4 linked regions of the Homo sapiens genome follow. Changing the gene in region 4 together with the main gene of any one other region gives a genetic interaction. Each region holds a gene or a part of one and is shown on either strand. Other genes may lie near its edges.

Region 1 (5,417 bases), on a different chromosome or scaffold from region 4:
TCCAGCCTGGGCAATAAGAGTGAAACACTGTCTCAAAAAAAAAAAAAAAAAATTTATTTAAAAAGAGCTGGGTGCAGTGGCTCACGCCTATAATCCCAGCTACTCAAGAGGCTGAGGCAAGAGGATCTCTTGAGGCCACTTCAAGACCAGCTTGGGCAACATAGGGAGACCTTGTCTCTAAAAAATATTTAAGGCCGGGTGTGGTGGCTCATGCCTGTAATCCCAGAACTTTTGGAGGCTGAGGTGGGTGGATCACCTGAGGTCAGGAGTTCAAGACCAGCCTGGTCAACTTGGCAAAACCCCATCTCTACTAAAAATACAAAAACTAGCCAGGCACAGTGGTGCCCGCCTATAATCCCACCTACTTGGGAGGCTGAGACAAGAGAATCGCCAGAACCCGGGAGGCGGAGGTTGCAGTGAGCCAAGACCAGGCTACTGCACTCCAGCCCGGGCAACAGAGTGAGACTCCATCTCAAAAAAAATAAAATAAATAACTAAATAAAATAAAAAAAGGATGGGCACAGTGGCTCATGCCTGTAATCCCAGCACACTGGTAGGCTGAGGCAGGAGAATCACTTAAGCCCAGGAGTTTGAGGTTACAGTGAGCTATGACAGTGACACTGCTGCCTGGATGACAGAGCGAGACTCTGTCTCTAAAAAATACATAATAATAAAATTAGCCTGAGGTGAGGTGACACACACCTGTAGTCCCAGCTATCGAGCTCCTTTATGTCCCTGGCTTGAGTGGGGACAGCTTCGGAAGGGCCAGAGTCTATTTTCAGCCTCTCATCCAAGAGGTTGATCACACCCCCTACCATGGGAATGGTGGCTTCCAGAGCTGGCCAAACCACTCCCAGTGGTTTTGTTCTCCCACTCATCATTCATCTTAAATTCCATTTGCAGACAAGGCCCACCTTTCTCCCAAAAGCCAAGGAAGTCACAGTGCTACTGCTGACCACAAGGTGAGGTAACAGAGGTTAAGTGTGGAGAGAGGGGACCATGAGGCTGGGCTGGAGGAGGCTGGTCTTTGTGGCCTTAGGGACAGTAGTCACCCAGGATGACTGGCAGGAAGCAGGCTGAAGGAAGGTGACTCCAGTTTTAGTCAGAATTCCGAGTTCCACCTTGGGCTTGAACAGGGAGTGGGTGTTGCTGGTACCCCCAACACCAACCACAATCCAGTGGTTCAAGGACCTGGATATGGTGGGGGAAAGGAAGTTTGGGGGAAGGCAATTTGGAGAAGAGGTTTGAAAACCACCCATGTAAAAGTTTACTGGGGAATAAAGCATTCATAAACTCCTTTCATCTCCTCTCCAACTTGCTCTGAGTTCAGTGCAATGGTTTTTACAAATAGGAATGGGCCAGACAAATTCGGACTTGAAGTCAAAAAAAAAAGAACCCCAAAGTACAAAGATTCTCTGTGACAAACTTTATTAAATTTTGCATCAGTACAGGGCATCTCTTATTGCATACTAGAATCCCAGGATTCAGGCGGGTGGTAAAGTGGCAACGGCGAATTTGGGTATCTGGTCTCCCAAAAGTACTTGCCGCTCTACCCCTGACTCTGCAATGGCTGCCAGGCGGATCACTCCTCCACTGGAGCCATCCCGCTCCATGGCCAAAGCGAGAGCTGTGGATAAAAGAAGAAAGCTGGGTTCAGATTCAGATGCCGGGATCACTGCAAGGAATGAGGAATGCTGGCCTGGCTTGGGTAGTTGGGGTTGAAGCTCATAGGCCCAGAAGCCTAAGCTCTCACCATTGGCAGTGAATTGCAGACACTCTTCCTTGGTCATGCCTTCCCGGTAGGTAGCATCAACATAGCCATAGATGTAGGAGCTCCCGGAGCCTCCAATGGCAAAGGACTGCCTTACCATCATACCCCCCATAGGCACTGAGTACACCTGCCAGATAGAAGGAGAGGAGTCACCAGTCGTATCCTCCCTCCAACACACGTACATTCACCTGTCCATTCTGCTATTGGTCTGAGGCACGTTAATAGTAAGAATAAGTGAGGTAGAGACTGGAAAGAAAAAGAAAATGGCTGGGGAGAGGATAAAAGTCCTGGCTCAAGTGTGCTCTGGTCGGGTGGGGATCTGACCTGCCCTCCTTCTTGAGGGTCCCAGCCTGCGATGATGATTCCCGCCATCAGGTCTTCCCGGTATCGGTAACACATCTCCTTAAAGAGGCTGGCTGCTGTGTGGACCAGTGGAGGCTCATTCAGTTCAATGCTAGAGGGTCAGGGAAGTCACAGAGAAAGTTTCAAGACCTAGAAGTCAGGCTATTTAGCTCCTCAGCTTCCAACTCCCTTCAGATACTTGCCCCTCCCCTGCCCACAAGCACCTGTGGAAACCGAGCTGGTAGGTGACAGCATCAGCTACTGCCTGGGTATCAGCAGCTGAGCCTGAGCGACAGCAGAAAATGCGGTCGTGAATAGGTGTCAGCTTGTCAGTCACTCGATTGGCGATGTAGGACCTGCAGGATGGCAGAATAGTGAGGAAAGGAGCCCACCTGTCTTCCACCTCCATCCCATCACTACCCACTCTCTTAGGGCTCAGGGATAGGATGTCCAGTATTGCCTTTTTTTCCTTTTTCTTTGAGATGGAGTCTCGCTCTGTTGCCCAGGCTGGAGTACAGTGACGCGATCTCTGCTCACTGCAACATCCACCTCCTGGGTCCAAGCGATTCTCTAGCCCTAGCCTCCCAAGTAGCTGGGACTGCAGGCACGCACCGCCACGCACGGCTAATTTTTGTATTTTTTAGTAGAGACGGGGTTTCGCCATGTTGGCCAGGCTGGTCTCGAACTCCTGACCTCAGGTGATCCACCCGCCTCGGCCTCCCAAAGTACTGGGATTACAGGCGTGAGCCACCGTGCCTGGCCTCCAGTATTGCTTATTCTCATCCAAACTGAAGCGGGCTGGAGAACAGACTTTTGTAAGGATTCCACTAACGAGTGAGGGGAACTGAAAGTAACAAAAGTTGGGACAAATCTTTATCTCCAGAGAGAGAAGAAACCTCTCTTCCCACAGTGGTCTGTGGAGGCAGGCAGGGTGGGCTGGCAGGCAGGAAAGGAAAAGGAAGATGGGAAGACCTTTCACAAATCTGTCCTGAGCTCACCCAGTGGTTGTTCTGGAGTCCGCCCCCAGAACCACGCCCCCGTCAAACTGCACGGCCATGATAGTGGTCTGGGAAAAGGGAAAAAGGAGTAAGTCTACATTCTCCAGCAGACACAAACCTCAATGATCTCTCTACCTAGTTCCAAAAATACAAAATCTGTCCGTCGCTGAACCATTTTCAAATCTTATAGGGGCCTCAGCACCCCGCAGAATACCAGAATGCCAACCCTCAAATCTCAAAAGACTCATCCCGTACTTAAGCCCAAGATCCTCACTAGCCTCGCAGGATTTCAGAATTTCAAACTTCAGCCCACCCTCCACCTCCCACTACGAAGCTACCGCACCACTCCACCATCTTCGGGGTACCTCTCCCCATTCCTGGAGCACAACACATTCCACCTCCTCTCCACCCCTGCCAGATCTCTCAACCCCACTCAGGCTTTATCTTCCCATCGCGTCAGGCCTTGTGCACGTCCTATGAACCCCGATTCCTTCCTCACCCCAGTGGAAACTTCTCGGCTTTCCCAGTCTGGAGTGAACGCCTCCGGCCCCCAAGCCGGTGCTGGCCCGGCTCCCCGAGCAGCTAGTAAGGTAGCCGCCATCTTTCTCCTCCGGTACTGCCTCAAAGCAACTGTCGTAAAGCGCTCTGTCACGCTCTTTGGTCGCGCTTTGAGGCCTTCTGGGAGCGAAGCTACTCCGAGGTTGACGGCAGAAGGGAAAAGAAAAGTACAGTACTGCATGGGGACGGTTCTTTTGCGACAGTGAGCACTTGATGGCAGCGTGGCAAGCAACAAACAAAACAAGAAAGTCAGCAAAACCCCCCCCCCAAAAAACCAAAAAAAACCCAAAAACCGTTCGGCACTTTGGGAGGCTGAGGCGGGCGGATCATGAGGTTAGGAGTTCAAGACCAGCCTGGCCAACATGGTGAAACTCCTTCTCTACTAAAAAATACAAAAATTAGCCGGGCGTGGTGGGGCGCGCCTGTAATCCCGGCTACTGGGGAGGCTGAGGCAGGAGAATCGCTTGAGCCTGGGAGGCGGAGGTTACAGTGAGCCGAGATCACGCCACTGCACTCCAGCCTGAGCGACAGAGCAAGACTGTCTCAAAACAAAAGCAAAAACAAAACAAAACAAAAAACAGTCCTAGTGGCTTGCGCCGTACCGATCTTATGGAGTTACAGTCCAAAGGGCCCACAAAATAAACCTGAGAGTCTTTGGGCTAAAGTGACCACACCATGTTTTCATTTCTTTTAGTTATATACTTAGGAGTATATGCTGGCAGAGGAATTTATGGGTTCTATGATAACTGTATGTTTAACATTTTGAGCAACCGACAAACTGTTTTCCACAGAAACTGCACCATTTTACATCCCTACAAGCCATGTGTGAGGGTTCCAATTTCTCCACATCCTCACCAACACTTGTTATTGTGCATTTTTTTAGTTATAGCCATTCCAGTGGGTGTGAAGTGGTACCCTGTGGTTTTCATTGGTATTTTTCTAATGATTAGTGATGCTGAGCATATTTCCATGAGATAATTGGCCATTTGTATGTCTTTTTTGATGCAATGTTTTTTCAAGTTCTTTGCACATTCTAAAATTGGGATATGTCTTTTGTTTAATATATTTTTGGGGTTTAATTTTTTTTTTTTGAGACGAGGGTGGGGTGTGTGTGTGGGGTGGGTTTGTCTTGCGGTGTTTCCCAGGCTGGAGTGCAGATGGGATCATGGTGCACTATATCAGCCTCGAACTCCTGGGCTCCAGTGATCCTCCCGCCTCAGCTTCTCAAGTAGCTGGGACTACAGGTGTGTGCCACTGAACCCAGCTCTATTTGTCTTTTTTTTTTTTTTTTTTTTTTTTTGAGACGGAGTCTCGCTCTGTCGCCCAGGCGGGACTGCGGACTGCAGTGGCGCAATCTCGGCTCACTGCAAGCTCCGCTTCCCGGGTTCACGCCATTCTCCTGCCTCAGCCTCCCGAGTAGCTGGGACTACAGGCGCCCGCCACCGCGCCCGGCTAATTTTTTTTGTATTTTTAGTAGAGACGGGGTTTCACCTTGTTAGCCAGGATGGTCTCGATCTCCTGACCTCATGATCCACCCGCCTCGGCCTCCCAAAGTGCTGGGATTACAGGCGTGAGCCACCGCGCCCGGCCTCTATTTGTCTTTTTATACTGGTGTGATCTCGGCTCACTGCAGCTTCCGCCTCCCGGGTTCCAGCAATTCTCTTGCCCCAGCCTCCCAAGTAGCTGGGATTACAGGCATGCGCCACCATGCCCGGCTAATTTTTGTATTTTTATTAAAGAGATGGGGT
Region 2 (4,793 bases), on a different chromosome or scaffold from region 4:
TAATGAAAATGACTATGAAAACCATAACCTTGCACAAAGCCCACTGCAACCTTACACAAAAAAATACTTCTGCAAGGACATCTGCCCAACAACTGCCTGCCCAACCTCCGACTGGCGTCACTTTTGTTATTAATCTTTGGAGCCAAGGATAATTATTTCAAAACAATTATGTCATCCTCATTTTCGTCTTCAAAAACCTCTGTCTTCCTTACCTCCCTGAATATGCACAAGTTTACTATGGCATTCCCACTGCAATGCTCTATTCCCAAACATCATTTTCTTTTAGAGAGCCTCTGTTTGTTATTTAGGTTGACAAGTAACAAGCTTATTTTAAAATTCAAACTTTGCAGACTGACCCTTACAAGCCAATCAATTTTTTTAAAGAAAGTTTCTTAGCCATACCAACCTAATATGTTAGTTACACAGAAAAATGAGGGTACAGGGGAATTCATTTTTTACTTATGCAGGTTGTAACAGCACAGGCTAATTCTGGGACCAGTAATTTGTTAACAATCACTTTTTAATTCTATTGCTTCCTGATCAAAGGAGATTAAGATACTCCTTTGATGGCCCGTTTGTGCTATGTGTTTTGATTTGTTCTGGAAAGTTCAACCCGGAATCCATTTCTTCATCTCCCTATTATCATGATTTTTCCACATCCTCTCTGCTTAAACTATAAAAATGGATTGTTGCCTTAAACTAAGAACACTGATCAATAAAATAACAGGGATCAAAAGAGGGGTACTGAAATAATGAAACCAAAAATGCTGCACTAGCTTAATGGAAGAGGTAAAAGGGTAGATATTAAAAATCCCGATGTTGCAGGCTGGAATTATTATGCAGTGACTAAAACATTAAGTCAAACTGTCACCTACCATACCTTGAAAGGCAGACCACATACCAAACAAGTTGTAGAATTAGGAGAAAATGAAAGGAAAAAGAGAAGACATTGGTATATGTTGGCTAGTGTTGGAATTTACAAAAATTTCAGCAAATTCTCAAAAAAGAGAAATAACTAACTCTAGAGGTAGTCCCCCAAGCAGACTGCTACAGTGTGTACTCCAAGTTGACATAAGACTCACGAATTTGGAAATAGATTCTGTTCATTTGTAGCAGTGAACCTAGAAATCAGAAGGCCCATGTTCTAGTCCCATAAATTCCTCAAATTAACTTGGCATTTATGCTCTTAATCTCAGCTTTCTTTGGGTTAAGAATCTTGCTTCTGGGGAGCTCATAAAGTGTTAATAGAAGCAGCAACTCCTAAAACTGGTTCTAAGCTATTTAAAGAACTGGACAAAACATTTTCCAAAGAAAAGCACACTGGAAATGAGATCTTCTAAATTCTAGCCTTTAAAAATCTTTTGCTTTCCTTATGGCTTTGGCTAGGATACAAAGAAAAGTATGTTTACCCTTACTAAGGAACATAGTAAATTTAAATCATGTCTTAATGTAAAAATAAATTGTAAAAATTTCACATAACAGTAAGTAAAAGCCAAAAGTAGAATATGTGAATCGGCTGGGTGCGGTGCCTCACGCCTGTAATCCCAGACTTTGGGAGGCCGAGGCAGGCAGATCACCTAAGGTTGGGAGTTCAAGACCGCCTGACCAACATGGAGAAACACCACATCTACTAAAAAAAAAAAAAAAAAAAAAATTGCTGGGCGTGGTGGCGCATGTAATCCCAGCTACTCGGGAGGCTGAGGCAGGAGAACTGCTTGAACCTGGGAGGCGGAGGTTGTGATGAGCCGAGATCGCGCACCATTGTACTCCAGCCTGGGCAACAAGAGCAAAAGTCTCTCTCAAAAAAAAAAAAAAAATCATGAGAATCATGGAAGGTTATCTAATGCTATGATTTTTATTCTCCTCCACATGTGCTTTCACACTGAGAGGAGCCACTAGGGGAAAGGCTGAGTATGTAGAGAAAAGGCGTAATAAGGTGGTATCTCAAAGGAGGTGGAGGATTAACACTGAAAAGAAGATCCTTAACGCAGTGTTTGAGCTAACAATTTAAAAAAATTTTAAAGAAAATACTGTATAGAAGACAGAATATTTCTTCCTTGAAGAACAGAGATAAAAACATAAGAATAGGGAGAAGATGGGCAAATCCCGGCATTTGCCAATCCTGGTATTTTGCCATGTTCTTTATGCAACGTGGAAAAAATGTTAAAGAGTGTTAGGCTTGTTTGGCTATTTTTCTCATCAGGTAAGTAATTTCCTGGATGCGAAGAGCGATTTGGAAGAGCCTGAATAAGCACTGTATTTGTGGCACTAATCCCAGAATTGGGGTGAGAAGGGGACAGAATGACAAATATTTGTTGAATACTTAATAAATTCCAGGCACTATCACACAATTTACATTTCTCAAAATAAACTAGATACCATTAACCCTACTACAGTCAAGAAACTTGGGTATTCAGGTTACAGATTTATCTAAGACTCCAAGTAAAAACTGCCTGAACCCCAAAGTGTGTTTTCTTCATTATCCCACACCTCCTACCTAAGTGTGAGTAACATCAAGAGTATTCTGGGCCGGGTACAGTGGCTCACGCCTGTAATCCCAGCACTTTAGGAGGCCAAGGTGGGCAGATCGCCTGATCTGGCCAACATGATGAAGCCCCATCTCCACTAAAAAAAAAAGTCCAAAAATTAGCCAGCATGATGACACACACCCGTAATCCCAACTACTCGGGAGGCTGAGCTTATAGTGATCCAAGACTGCACCACTGCTCTCCAGCCTGGGTGACAGAACGAGTAAGACTCTGTCTCAATAAATAAATAAATAAATAAATAAATAAATAAGTATTCTGCTTTGCACTTGTGTTCACAGGATTAGAGATCTTAAAGAGAATATCTGAAAATCAAATAACAAAGAAGTTAAAGATATAGATGAGAGAAGAATTAAAGCTGCCAACACAGGGTCTAGGCAGGAGGAAGGGAAATGAAACCTTGAAGAACAATGAAATGGAAGAATATCTTGATATCAAAAAACATATATAGGCTGGGCACGGTGACTCATGCCTGTAATCCCAGCACTGTGGGAAGCCGAGGCGGGCGGATCATGAGGTCAAGAGATTGAGACCATCCTGGCAAATATAGTGAAACCCCGTCTCTACTAAAAATACAAAAATAAATTAGCTGGGTGTAGTGGCGCATGCCTGTAATCCCAGCTACTTGAGAGGCTGAGGCAGAAGAATCGCTTGAACCCGGGAAGCGGAGGTTGCCGTGAACCAAGATTGCGCCACTGCACTCTAGCCTGGGCGACAGAGTGAGATTGCGTCTCAAAAAAAAAAAAAAAAAAGCATATATATTAGAAATAAAAATAAATATTTTTTAAAAAATACAAAAATTAGCCAGGTATGATACTGTACATCTGTAGTCCCAGCTACTCGGGAAGCTGAGCGCACTCCACCGAGTGCTTGAGCAAGGGGGTTGGGCTGCAACCGTGCCACTGCACTCCAGCCTGGACAACAGAGGAAGACTCTTTTTTATTTTTTTCCCCAGACGAAGTCTCACTCTGTCGCCCAGGCTGGAGTGCAATGGTGCAATCTTGACTCACTGCAACCTCTGCCTCCTGGCTTCAAGTGATTCTCCTGCCTCAGCCTCCCGAGTAGCTGAGATTACAGGTGTGTGCCATCACGCCTGGCTATTTTTTTTTTGTATTTAGTAGAGACGGGGTTTTACCATGTTGGCCAGGCTGGTCTCAAACTCCTGACCTCAGGTGACCCACCCACTTTGGCCTCCCAAAGTTTTGGGATTACAGGCGTGAGCCACCACGTCTGGCAGACTCTGTCTAAAAAAAGAGTTGGGCACGGTGGCTCATGCCTGTAATCCCAGCACTTCGGGAGGCCGAGGTGGGCGGATCACCTGAGGTCTGGAGTTCGAGACCAGCCTGGCCAACATGACAAAACCCCGCCTCTACTAAAAATACAAAAAGCAGCCAACTATGGTGGCACACGTCTGTAATCTCAGCTACTCAGGAGGCTGAGGTAGGAGAATGGCTTGAATGGCTCGAACCTGGGAGGCAAAGGTTGCAGTGAGCCGAGATCGTGCCACTGCACTCCAGCCTGGGTGACAGAGCAAGACTCCATCTCAAAAAAAAAAATTTGGCCGGGCGTGGTGGTGGGCACCTGTAATCCCAGCTAATGAGGAGGCTGAGGCAGAATCGCTTGAACCCAGGAGGCAAAGGTTGCAGTGAGCCGAGATTGCATCATTGCATCCCAGCCTGAGCAACAGAGCGAGAGACTGTCTCAAAAAAAAGTTTAAGTCTGGTAATAAATTTCAGTATTTAGACATGAAAGAGGACTGTTACGTTGGTGGTAACTGTCTATATAGAAGGCACGGTCAGGTTCCAGAGGAAGAATCACTTCTGCTCTTGGTAGAAACACATAATGGGCAACAGGAAATGCAAAGAATGCTGAATGGTGTGAATTTACTAAGAGGCAAGAAAACAACATGAGAGTCTCCACTCACAGTCTACAAAGAGAGACAGAATTCTGTTAAAGGAAATATAGAAAATAGTCTATAAGGAAGTTATTACAGCAGGATCACAGAGAATAATGAGCACAGATGAGGGAGGAGGATGGTGGCTGGGGGATGGTCAGACAGACCTGGGAGCCAGAGGAGGACTGGACTGACAGAGGTTAACGTACAGCACCAGAAAGCACAGGGGACTCTGGGAGTATATACTTGAGGTAGTCACTGGTAAAGACTAGAAGGCAAAGGAACTTGGGAATTAAAGTGATACAGAAGGAACTGGCCTCCAAATTCTGAATGTGATTCCAAAAAACCACAGG
Region 3 (4,793 bases), on a different chromosome or scaffold from region 4:
TAGAGACAGGGTTTCACCGTGTTAGCCAGGATGGTCTCAATCTCCTGACCTCGTGATCCGCCCACCTCGGTCTCCCAAAGTGCTGGGATTATAGGCGTGAGCCACCACGCCCAGCCCCTAACTTAAGTTTTTTAAACAAAATATCACAGACATGTATTTTTAAATAACTGATCATGAAAAGCAGCAGTTCCCCGCCCCACCCCTTCCTAGGTCCCGTCCTGTTCCTGGCAGCAACCACCTTCAGATCTTTGAGCTGTCTCGTTTGGTATTTATCTTCCTATTTTTAAATAATATGCTGTGCCAGGGGACCTTTGGAAAATCCATCACCTGTTGGCCAAGGCTCCTGGCCATTTGCTATGTGACAATCCTTCCTTAATCTGGAAAAAAGATAGATTTGATAAACTGTCACAATGATACAGTGTACTTGTTTTAAGAACGTGGACTCCTAAGACTTGGCCCATTCCATTTCTGAGAGATAACTGAGATAAGTTACAAGATAAGAGAATAACAATATGAGACATTTTGCAATATTTTTATATCTTACTTTATCAAAGAATTACCCAAGCTTGCTGCTACATTATATTTTTTTCTTTTCTTTTCTTTTTTGAAACAGGGTCTCACTCTGTCACTCAGACTGGAGTGCCGTGGTACACCTCCCAAGCTCAAGTGATCCTCCCACCTCAACCCCACAAGCAGCGGACTACAGGCATACACCACCATGCCCGACTTATTTTTGTATTTTTTTTTTTTGTAGAGACAGGGTTTCACCATGTTGCCCAGGCTGGTCTCCAACTCCTGGGCTCAAGCCATCCAACCACCTCAGCCTTCCAAAGTGCTGGGATTACAGGCACGAGCCACTGTGCCTAGCTGCTAAATTATATTTCTATCCAAAAATAAAATATACCCACTCCCTAAAAGCCCTGCCATGAGAAGTTGGGTAACATAAAAGTCCATAAAGTCAGTTAGAAAAAAGGATGGTAGGTCATGTCTCCCCCAGGGAAGCAGACAGAGCCATTACATGCATGAGCTTGAGTATGGATGGATCTAGAATGTGGATGAGTCTATTTCTCCTAAAATCAGGGTAAGGGTAAGAGTTGTGAGAACAGGGGTGTGGTAGGGGACTCATTATTTGGACTTTGAGAACAAAAAACAAAACAAAATGAAAAGCACTTCACCAGCAGAAGGCTGAGAAACCAGTACAGGTAATGTTTGATTATTACCTAACGTTATCTTGTATATAAAATAAAAATAAATCTTGTTTTTAAAAATGCTTTTGACTACTAGTCTGTTTCTTGGGAGCTCCAAATCATTTACCCATCACCTAATTAAAAAACAAAACAAAACACAAATACAATCCCACATCCCACCTCACCGCCAAAGAAAAACACAACAAAATAAAACCCATCTACTGGCTTAAGGCCTGAAAAGGAGAAAGAGGCCTCCAATCAGTGGCCAAAAATGTTCCTACAGCCTATACTTAGGTTACTTTTTTCTTGCTTTACCAATTTAGAACATGACTTCCAATTATGGTAGGTAAGAATTTAGTTCTTTTCCCAATATCCAAGTTATATCACAGTTTTTATTAAATCAGTAGCTGGTGCTTCTATTATTATTTACATGTTTCTCTCCTAAGCTAATAAAACACTATGATTACATTTCCTTTCTTGAACATTTTGTTTTTCCTAGACTTGCTAAGCCCTTCATTGTTTTCATGTGCTTCATTTTTTATGTACCTATTGCTCATTCCTCTAAAGGCTAGATTATATGGAAATCTTTTTTCCACACAAATCAGATACCTGTTAATTCCCTACTCTCATTTTTTCCTAGAATTCTTTATTCTGGAGCCACCTTCCTCCTCTTCCAACGGTCTCATGGTAGAGCTGGCAACCTGAAACTTCTCTATTATTCCAGCAGGTTCCTGGGGTAATGAAAGGCAAACTTTTTGAGAGTCTGTCTGAAAATACCATTCTTCTACTGTCACATCTGATTGACACTGTTGGGTACCGAATTCTAGGTTAGAATTATAATTTTTTTTCCCCTAAGAATGTTTAAGGCATGGTTCCATTCTCTTACAGGTATAAGTGCTGCTGTTGAAAAGTCTGATGTCTGACTCCCAATCCTTTGTATGTGGACCTGATTATTTTTTTCTTCTCTGTAAGCTTTAGGACCTTAACTTTATTCTCAGTGTTATTAAGTTTCTTGACATGCCTTCATGTTAGACTATTTTTATTCCTCAGGCTGGGTAGTTGGCAGGCCCTTTCCATTTAGAGATATATGTCCTTCAATTCTGGGAAATTAATCCACGTGTTTTGTTTGAGAGTTTCCTTGACTCTGTTTTCTATTTTTTCACGAGTCTCTTATTAATCAGATGCTGAACTTCCTGGACTGATTCTCTAATTTGCTTATTTTTTTCTTCTATTGTCCAATGCACTGCACATTGGTTTTGATCTCTGGAAGATTTTCTTGACATTATTTTCTAACTTTCCCAGGGGAAGGAGAGGCACCATAATTTTAATTTCTAAGAGCTCGTTTTTATCCTGTTTGTTCATTTTTTAAAAGCAGTATTGTGTTCTTGTTTCAAAGAGGCAGCTACCTTCCCTTATCTCTCTGAGGACATTTATAAAAGCTATTAATTTTTTAAGTATTCTTTTACCCTGTGCATTATCTATAGCCTCCTATTTCCTTTAGTTTTCTTTTTTATTTTGAGCTTTGTCTATCATGTTGGAGAATCTCCTCAAGTGCCTGGTGATTTTTGGCTCTCAATCTATATTTTAAAGTAAGATACTAAAATGCCAATTAAAAGTCCTATGTAAATGCCCAGGGCTTATTCATCAGTGGCCTTCACTGTAAAGCAATCAGGTGGCCAGACAGATTTTTTTAAATTGAGAGACATCCCACCATGTCAATATCTCATGTTCTTCCCACTAGGGTCACACAATCTTCAAAGAAGCTCCTGCAGATTCTTGCTTGGGGGAGGAGGGGAAGAGGAAAGATGGACATACCAGGCCACCTAAGTTCCCGCACTGGGGCAGGGAAAAGAACTGGGTAGGTCCTGGAGTTCACTACAGATGCTGTCTGATACCGCCTTTTGCTCTGACTGGTGGCCTCAGGGAAAGTGTGTCATGAGCTGAATTTCTCCAAAGACTATACATTCCTATGGGGGTAGGGCAGCTGCAGAGGGTCAGGTAGAGAAGCTCAGATCTCACTGCACTGTACTCAGACTCTGACTCAACCCCTTTGTTTTCACCTCAGCCAGCCTTCCACAATACTTGACGCCCCCACATCCTGAGCGTTTTTAAGGTTGTGTAGGACACATCATCTCAGTTCTCGCTAGTGTCCCTTCCTGCAGGCACTTAGGTCACAGTGCATCCTCTGCAAAGTGAGGCCCTCCTCCACCTACCATCTCTCTCTCACACACTCTTGTCTCCTCTCCCATTCTTTTGTAGGCTTATCACATTTGCATTCTTTCACTATGATTTCAGTGGGGTTTCTCTGGGTTACAGAGAGGATGGATTAAAATGCATGTGTTCAGTTGATCATATTAATCAAAAGCCTCTCCTGTCTTTACCCCTTCTTCATTGGCTCCTTCTCATCAGCATTTTTAAAAAATTTTGTTTTATTGCAGTAAGAACACTTAACATGAGATCTATCCTCTTAAACACATTTTAAGTGTACACTATCATAGACTACATAACTCATCAGCATTTAAACATTCCCAAGTCTCTCCAATATTAAGAAAGACATGACCAATAAATGTTTTCTCTTGATTCTATGTCTCCTTTCACTTGCTGCATTCTGTTGTCCTTCATAGTAAAACTTTTTGAAACAGTTGCCCACACTCACTTCTTCCTCCATGCCATGACATTTCTCAATCCACTGCCACCTACCTTCTGTTTCCATCACCCCACTCAAACTGTTCTTGCAAAGGATACCCTTCTTAATAAATCCAATGGGCACTTCCTAGTCCTCACTTTACTTGACCTCTCAGTAGCATCCAATGTTCTTGTACTCCCTCCTTCTCAAAACACTCACTTCCTTGGAGTTTCTGGCCCTGCACTCTCCTTACGTCTTCTTACCTCTTTGCAAATGGGATCCACACCCTTTATCAGGGCTTATATGGTACAGGCTATGCTTTCTGCTCTAGCCTCACCTCTTGCAATGCCCATATTCAAATTCTATGCTACAACACATGGAAAACGTTTCAGTTTCTAGAGCAAGCCACGTTGTTTTTCTTCTGGTCTTTGTACATCCTATTCACTTTCTACTTGGCCAATTTCATCAATTCCTTATATCTGTGTTGAATACTCTTCCTATGTGCTCCTCAAGCACCTTGTATTTCCACGACTAACATGTTTATTAAAAGGTAGTGCAACTGCCTGCTTGCTTGTTCATGCTCCATGTGGGCAACACCCATATCTATCGTCTACCAAGTTCAAAACTGTGTCACTAGAGCTACACAAGGGCTAGCATAACGTGGGCATCCAATATATGCCAGCTGAGTGAATGAAGACACAACCGACAGAGAAGAAGAATGAAATGTCTACAGAAAGACTATACATTATAACAATTGTTTTAAGTGACAATCCTAATTTTTTACTAAATCAAGAGCCAATACCATGTTGAACCAAAGAAACACTCCAAATAACTACAGATGGAAAAAAAAAAGCTCATAAGCCTTCTTTTTCGCAATAAAAGTAATGATTTCTAATTCAGAAATAATTTTATCCATATACTAGTTTTTACTGGTTTTCATTATTTACTTAATTCTCTATACATCTCTGAGGTGATGAGAT
Region 4 (5,264 bases):
ACTGCACTCCAGCCTGGGCAACGAGCGAAACTGTCTTTTGTCAAAAAAAAAAAAAAAAAAAAAAAAAAAACAACAAACCAAAACCAAAACAAACCAACAGACAAACTTATCAGAGTATAGATGAATCAGCTGGTAAATGAATTCAAGAGGGGTAGAAAAATAAGCGAAACTGGAAGGCTAGGGGACTAAAAACAGTAAGTCCCTAATAGACTGGAGATCATCATAATCGATAGATCACCCATCAGTCAAGTAGAATTGGATAGGTGAATGGAGGGGTACGGGAGGGAAAGAATAGGTAATGTAGGGGAGAGAAAGGTAATGTAATAATTTGAGGTGTTTATTAGAAATGGAGGCATTCCAAAAAGATTCAAAGTGGAGCTATGCTTATAGGCAGCTAGAGTAAAAGTAGTTGTAACTTATTCTTTTCTCACAGTATCATGCTTGTTTTATTTACACATACGCTATGATTTATTGTGTTCTCCATACAAATGTAAATTTTATGAGGGCAGGGACTTAGGTGCAAAACCCCAGTGCCTAAAATAGTAGCAGGCACACAGAGGGCTCAATAACCTGGTAAATATGAATAAAAGAACTCACATGTGATTACTGCAGCTGACAGAATAGAAGGGAACACAATTGGTAGGATAAGTGTCTTGGAACCTGGCAGCCAATTATCAGCAATGAGTATGATAAGGTAGTAAAGAGCAGATTTAAAAAAGAATGGCTGGGCATGGTGGCTCACGCCTATAATCTCAGCATTTTGAGAGGCCCAGGTGGGCAGATAGCTTGAGCCCAGGAGTTTGAGACCAGCCTGGGCAACATGGTAAAACCCTGTCTCTACAAAAATACAAAAATTAGCTGAGGGTGGTGGTGCACACCTGTGGTTCCAGCTACTCGGGAGGCTGAGGTGGAAGGATCAACTGAGCCCAGGGAGGTTGAGACCACAGTGAACCAAGCTCCATGCTACTGCACTCCGGCCTCGGTGACAGAGTGAGACCTTATCTCAAACCAACAACAAAAACCAGTAAACACAGTGCCCTGAAAATGACAATGGGAACTGAAAGAGTCTAAAGATTGACACTCTTCTTCTAAGTTAACAGAGCTCCCCTCCATTTTTTTGAGACTGGGACTAGCTATGCTGACCAGGCTGCAGTGCAGTGGCTATTCACATGCACAATCACTGCACACTGCATCCTCGAACTCCTAGGCTCAAGTGGTTCTCCTGCCTCTGCCTCCTGAGTAGCTGGGACTATAGGCGCACATCACCATGCCCAGCATAAGCCAGGAGTAGAAACATGCTTACCTAGTTATCAGAATTTTATTTTCATTTTAATTATTATTTTTTTTGAAACAGGGTCTTGCTCTGTCACCCAAGCTGGAATGCAGTGGTTCAATCACAGCTAACTGCAGCCTTGACCTCCTGGGCTCAAGTGATCCTCCCACTTCAGCCTCTCAAGTAGCTGGGACCAGAGGCATGAGCCACCAAGCTGGGCTAATTTTAAAATTTTCTGTAGAGACAGGGTCTCACCATGTTGCCCAGGCTTATCTCAAACTCCTAGTCTCAAGTGATCCTCCTGCCTTGGCCTCCCAAAGTGCTGGGATTACAGGTGTGAGCCACTGTACCTGGCCAGTTATCAGAATTTTAAATTCTCAATTTTTTTTTTGGCAACAGATATTGAACATCACATCTCATTGACCAAAGCAAGAAAAGCTAGCCTTCCTGCCTAGCTCCCTGCTAAATTTACATATTTGTCTTGTCACATAATATTTAGAAAATAAGGCTAAATGGTGAACTTTGTCCCACCTTATCTGTGGTCCAAAAACATTAAATGCATAGTCCCAGCAACAGACATCCGTAAGTTTTACACTGCATGCTGTTCTTAGCAGTGTGATGATACCTCATACTGTCCCTGGATGTGGATTATCCTTTGTCTAGCATCTCCATGCTGCCCATTAATCAGTTATCTCAGTTTTATGATTGACTGTTGTGGTATCAAAGGGTTACTTGTGTTCAAGTAACCCTTTTTTTAACTTAATACTAGCCTGAAAGTATAAGAGCAGTGATGCTGGCAATATGGATATGCCAAAGAGAAGCTGTAAAGTGCTTCCTTTAAGTGAAAAGGTACAAGTTCTTGACTTAATAAGAAAAAGAATCATATGTTGAGACTGCCAAGATTTATGGTAAGGACGAATCTTCTATCTGTGAGATTGTGAAGAAGTAAAAAGAAGTTCGTGCTGGCCAGGCGCGGTGGCTCACGCCTGTAATCCCAGCACTTTGGGAGGCTAAGGCAGGTGGCTCATGCGGTCAGGAGTTTGAGACCAGCCTGGCCAACATAGTGAAACCCTGTCTCTACTAAAAATACAAAAATTAGCTTGGCGTGGTGGTGTGCGCCTGTAGTCCCAGCTACTCGGGAAGCTGAGGCAGGAGAACTGCTTGAACCCAGGAGGCGGAGGTTGCAGTGACCCGAGACCACACCATTGCACTCCAGCCTCGGTGACACAGTGAGACTCTGTCATACACACGCGCGTGCACACACACACACACAGAAATTTGTGCATAGGGTTCACTACTATCTGTGGTTTCTGGTACCTACTCTGAGGATAAAGGAGGCCTATTGTAGTGCTCTTCCTCTTTTGCCACTGTGTTTGAGGCCTAATTCTCCAAATCAAACTTGAACCATCAGGTCCAGAATTACATACTGCTCCCTTTTTTGTGCTTCAATGATGCTACAGAAGGACAACCCTAGCAAGAGTGCCTGAACTATGTAACATAATAAAAAGTAAGATAGAGGCGATGCCACTGACAACTCTGGGGATGTCTCAGAAGATAGTTGAGATTTATCATTAGGTAACGATCCAACTGACAGGTTAAAAACAAACTCACTCCTGAAAACAAACACATCCTTTTTGAGACAGGATCTCGCTTTGTCACAAAGATTGGAGTGCAGTAGTGTGATCTCAGCTCACTGCAGCTTTGACTTCCTGCCTCAGCCTCCTGAGTAGCTGGGACTACAGGTGCACACCACCATGCCCGGCTAATTTTCTAATTTTTTTGTAGAGATGAGGTCTCACTATGTTGCCCAGGCTGATCTCAAACTCCTGGGCTCAAGTGATCCTCCTGCTTCAGCCTCTCGAAGTGCTGGGATTATAGATGTGAGCTACTGTGCCCAGCCAACACACACATAACTGCAATAAAACAGTATTAAGTAATTTCAATGGCCTCAATGGATCACTGACTTGGACAAGGTAATAATGAAGCCAACTGTCCTTTGTTAAACAACTTCTAACAAAATAACAAAACCTTAACCTATTTGTTTCCCTTCTTCCAACTTTAGAAAAGTCAAAAAGTTCATCTCTGTTCTTGCCTTTTAAAATGTCTTTTATTAAAGAAGTCTGATGTGTTATTATTTCTTTTTCAAAGTGAAGACTCAGCAGCAAGAATTACTGTCTGCTGATAAAAACTTTTTTTTTTCTTTGGCTGGGGGTTGGGGGGCGTGTGTGTCACATAAACCTCAGAGATGGAACAGGAGGCTGCCCAACACACTAAGTAGGTAATCATTACTTAAATGACTTGGGATGGCAGTGCTTTCAACCAATTTCTGTGCAAAGAAAATAAAGTCCATAAAGTTTAGGGGGAAAATTGCCAGAGGGATGCTCTATTCCTTCTCTGATAAAATTCCAATGAGCAGTGTGTTACATAATTCTCTAATCTTCTCAAAGCAGAATTGACAATTAGGTGCCAAGTTCTTCCTGAATCCTTTTCAGCAAATTTTTTGCAAGGAACTAAAAACCTAATCTACCTTCTATTAGAATGAAAATTTATTTGTAAAAATAAGGGCTGAGAGGAAAATCTTGGGGTATCTAGAAAATGTTTTTAAAAGGACTTGGCTACTAATCATGCTGGCAGCCTTATTCAACAGAAGCTCACAAGGGAATATACCTGAAAGACAAGTCAATTTACATGAAACTTGGGGGTACAGTGTGGTATCTGGAGACTCTAAACTGTTTTTTCAGTCATAACTATTGATTTGCTTTTCAAAATACAGTAATGAAAAAGTATCTGAAATAAGTAATAACACAAACCTTGGAAAGAATGGTATGTAAAAAAATTAAACAGGCAGAGATGTCAAAATAGGTCTATCTTCAACTTTACTGCTCAAACTTAAAAATCAAGGTTAATAAATCAAGGCTAATAATTAGCAACTCTTACCACTCCTTGGAGGTCTTTATGCTTAATAATTTGCTAAAAGTAAGTTGTCCTTTTTGGTTCACCTTTTTCAAGAACTTTGGGCTTACCGCTTTATTAGGTATGTTGTCCTGTGTTAGACAAAGAGGGACTCAAAGTCTGGGTATCAAAACTCTTCTTCAGCAATCACTAAAACTACGGCCCAATGAATGTAGGAATGTTTAATCCTATGAGGGCTCAGTATGTGCTTATTTTTTCCTGCTTTTTCTCTCATGTGAATAACTGTCATTGTGATTATCCCTTGTAACTTTTACCTTGGCTACCTTAAAATTTTGGGTGTGGTAAACCAGAAAATCCAGGTTAACTATGTATACAAGTAAAATCAGAAAGTGTTACCTGTGAACTGGCAGATCTGCATTAGGCATTAGTAGAAATGCAAAACCTTAGTTAAGTTCTGCCCCATACCTACTGAAGTAGAATCTTCATTTTAAGAAGATTCCCTGGGGATTCATATACACATTAAGGTTTCAGAACTACTGCTCTAATGAAGGACCAACTATGAGCCTCTATTGCAGAATAAAGCTCAAAAAGGATTTCCAACAGCTATTTCAAGCGCTAGGACCTTAGGTTCTGTATAGTTGAGATCTTACCTACAGGTAACCAGGATATTACTACAGCTGAGTAACTGCCGTATGCAACTAAAAAGGAGATGGAAAGTCTAATCTTGCCTGTTATTTGCCATTTCTGGGGGTTACTAACCAGGAAAGTTAATACACATTCCAAAAGAAAAATGAAATCTCCAAGAGAACTCTTGTATCTTTACTTACCACCATTCCAATATTGTTCTGTTGTCCACTAGTCGCCATCTCCACACATTCATCTATCACAAGGTTCATAAAGGGATCAAATCCCCGCAATATTCCTTGGACATGTCTGCCACCATTTAATTTCACTATTAAAAAGAGAAAAAGAAGTTTTAGAAAAACATTCCATTAGCTACCAAGCATTCACTAAAAATCAGGTGGGATAAAACACAAGTATTTGAGATGTCTGAAACCCACTATCCTTACTGTATGAC

What was found. A genetic interaction does not mean that the proteins touch.
Region 1: changes in SNRPG (region 4) and PSMB6 together harm fitness less than expected from each alone (positive genetic interaction), as found in Homo sapiens cells (one large-scale study listed by BioGRID).
Region 2: changes in SNRPG (region 4) and METAP2 together harm fitness more than expected from each alone (negative genetic interaction), as found in Homo sapiens cells (one large-scale study listed by BioGRID).
Region 3: changes in SNRPG (region 4) and GATB together harm fitness more than expected from each alone (negative genetic interaction), as found in Homo sapiens cells (one large-scale study listed by BioGRID).

What each region holds. Positions count from the first base shown.
Region 1 is NC_000017.11:4,794,490-4,799,906, reverse strand, and holds PSMB6 (proteasome subunit beta type-6), read right to left. Parts: upstream 3,744-5,417; 5' UTR 3,713-3,743; coding exon 3,611-3,712; intron 3,180-3,610; coding exon 3,112-3,179; intron 2,470-3,111; coding exon 2,338-2,469; intron 2,226-2,337; coding exon 2,096-2,225; intron 1,899-2,095; coding exon 1,754-1,898; intron 1,648-1,753; coding exon of another isoform or gene 1,628-1,647; coding exon 1,485-1,627; 3' UTR 1,412-1,484; downstream 1-1,411. UniProt on the Homo sapiens protein: Component of the 20S core proteasome complex involved in the proteolytic degradation of most intracellular proteins. This complex plays numerous essential roles within the cell by associating with different regulatory particles.
Region 2 is NC_000012.12:95,504,802-95,509,594, reverse strand, and holds part of METAP2 (methionine aminopeptidase 2), read right to left. Parts: intron 1-4,793. UniProt on the Homo sapiens protein: Cotranslationally removes the N-terminal methionine from nascent proteins. The N-terminal methionine is often cleaved when the second residue in the primary sequence is small and uncharged (Met-Ala-, Cys, Gly, Pro, Ser, Thr, or Val).
Region 3 is NC_000004.12:151,750,065-151,754,857, forward strand, and holds part of GATB (glutamyl-tRNA(Gln) amidotransferase subunit B, mitochondrial isoform 1 precursor), read right to left. Parts: intron 1-4,793. UniProt on the Homo sapiens protein: Allows the formation of correctly charged Gln-tRNA(Gln) through the transamidation of misacylated Glu-tRNA(Gln) in the mitochondria. The reaction takes place in the presence of glutamine and ATP through an activated gamma-phospho-Glu-tRNA(Gln).
Region 4 is NC_000002.12:70,283,055-70,288,318, forward strand, and holds part of SNRPG (small nuclear ribonucleoprotein G), read right to left. Parts: intron 5,139-5,264; coding exon 5,014-5,138; intron 4,318-5,013; coding exon of another isoform or gene 4,207-4,317; exon of another isoform or gene 4,144-4,206; intron 1-4,143. UniProt on the Homo sapiens protein: Plays a role in pre-mRNA splicing as a core component of the spliceosomal U1, U2, U4 and U5 small nuclear ribonucleoproteins (snRNPs), the building blocks of the spliceosome.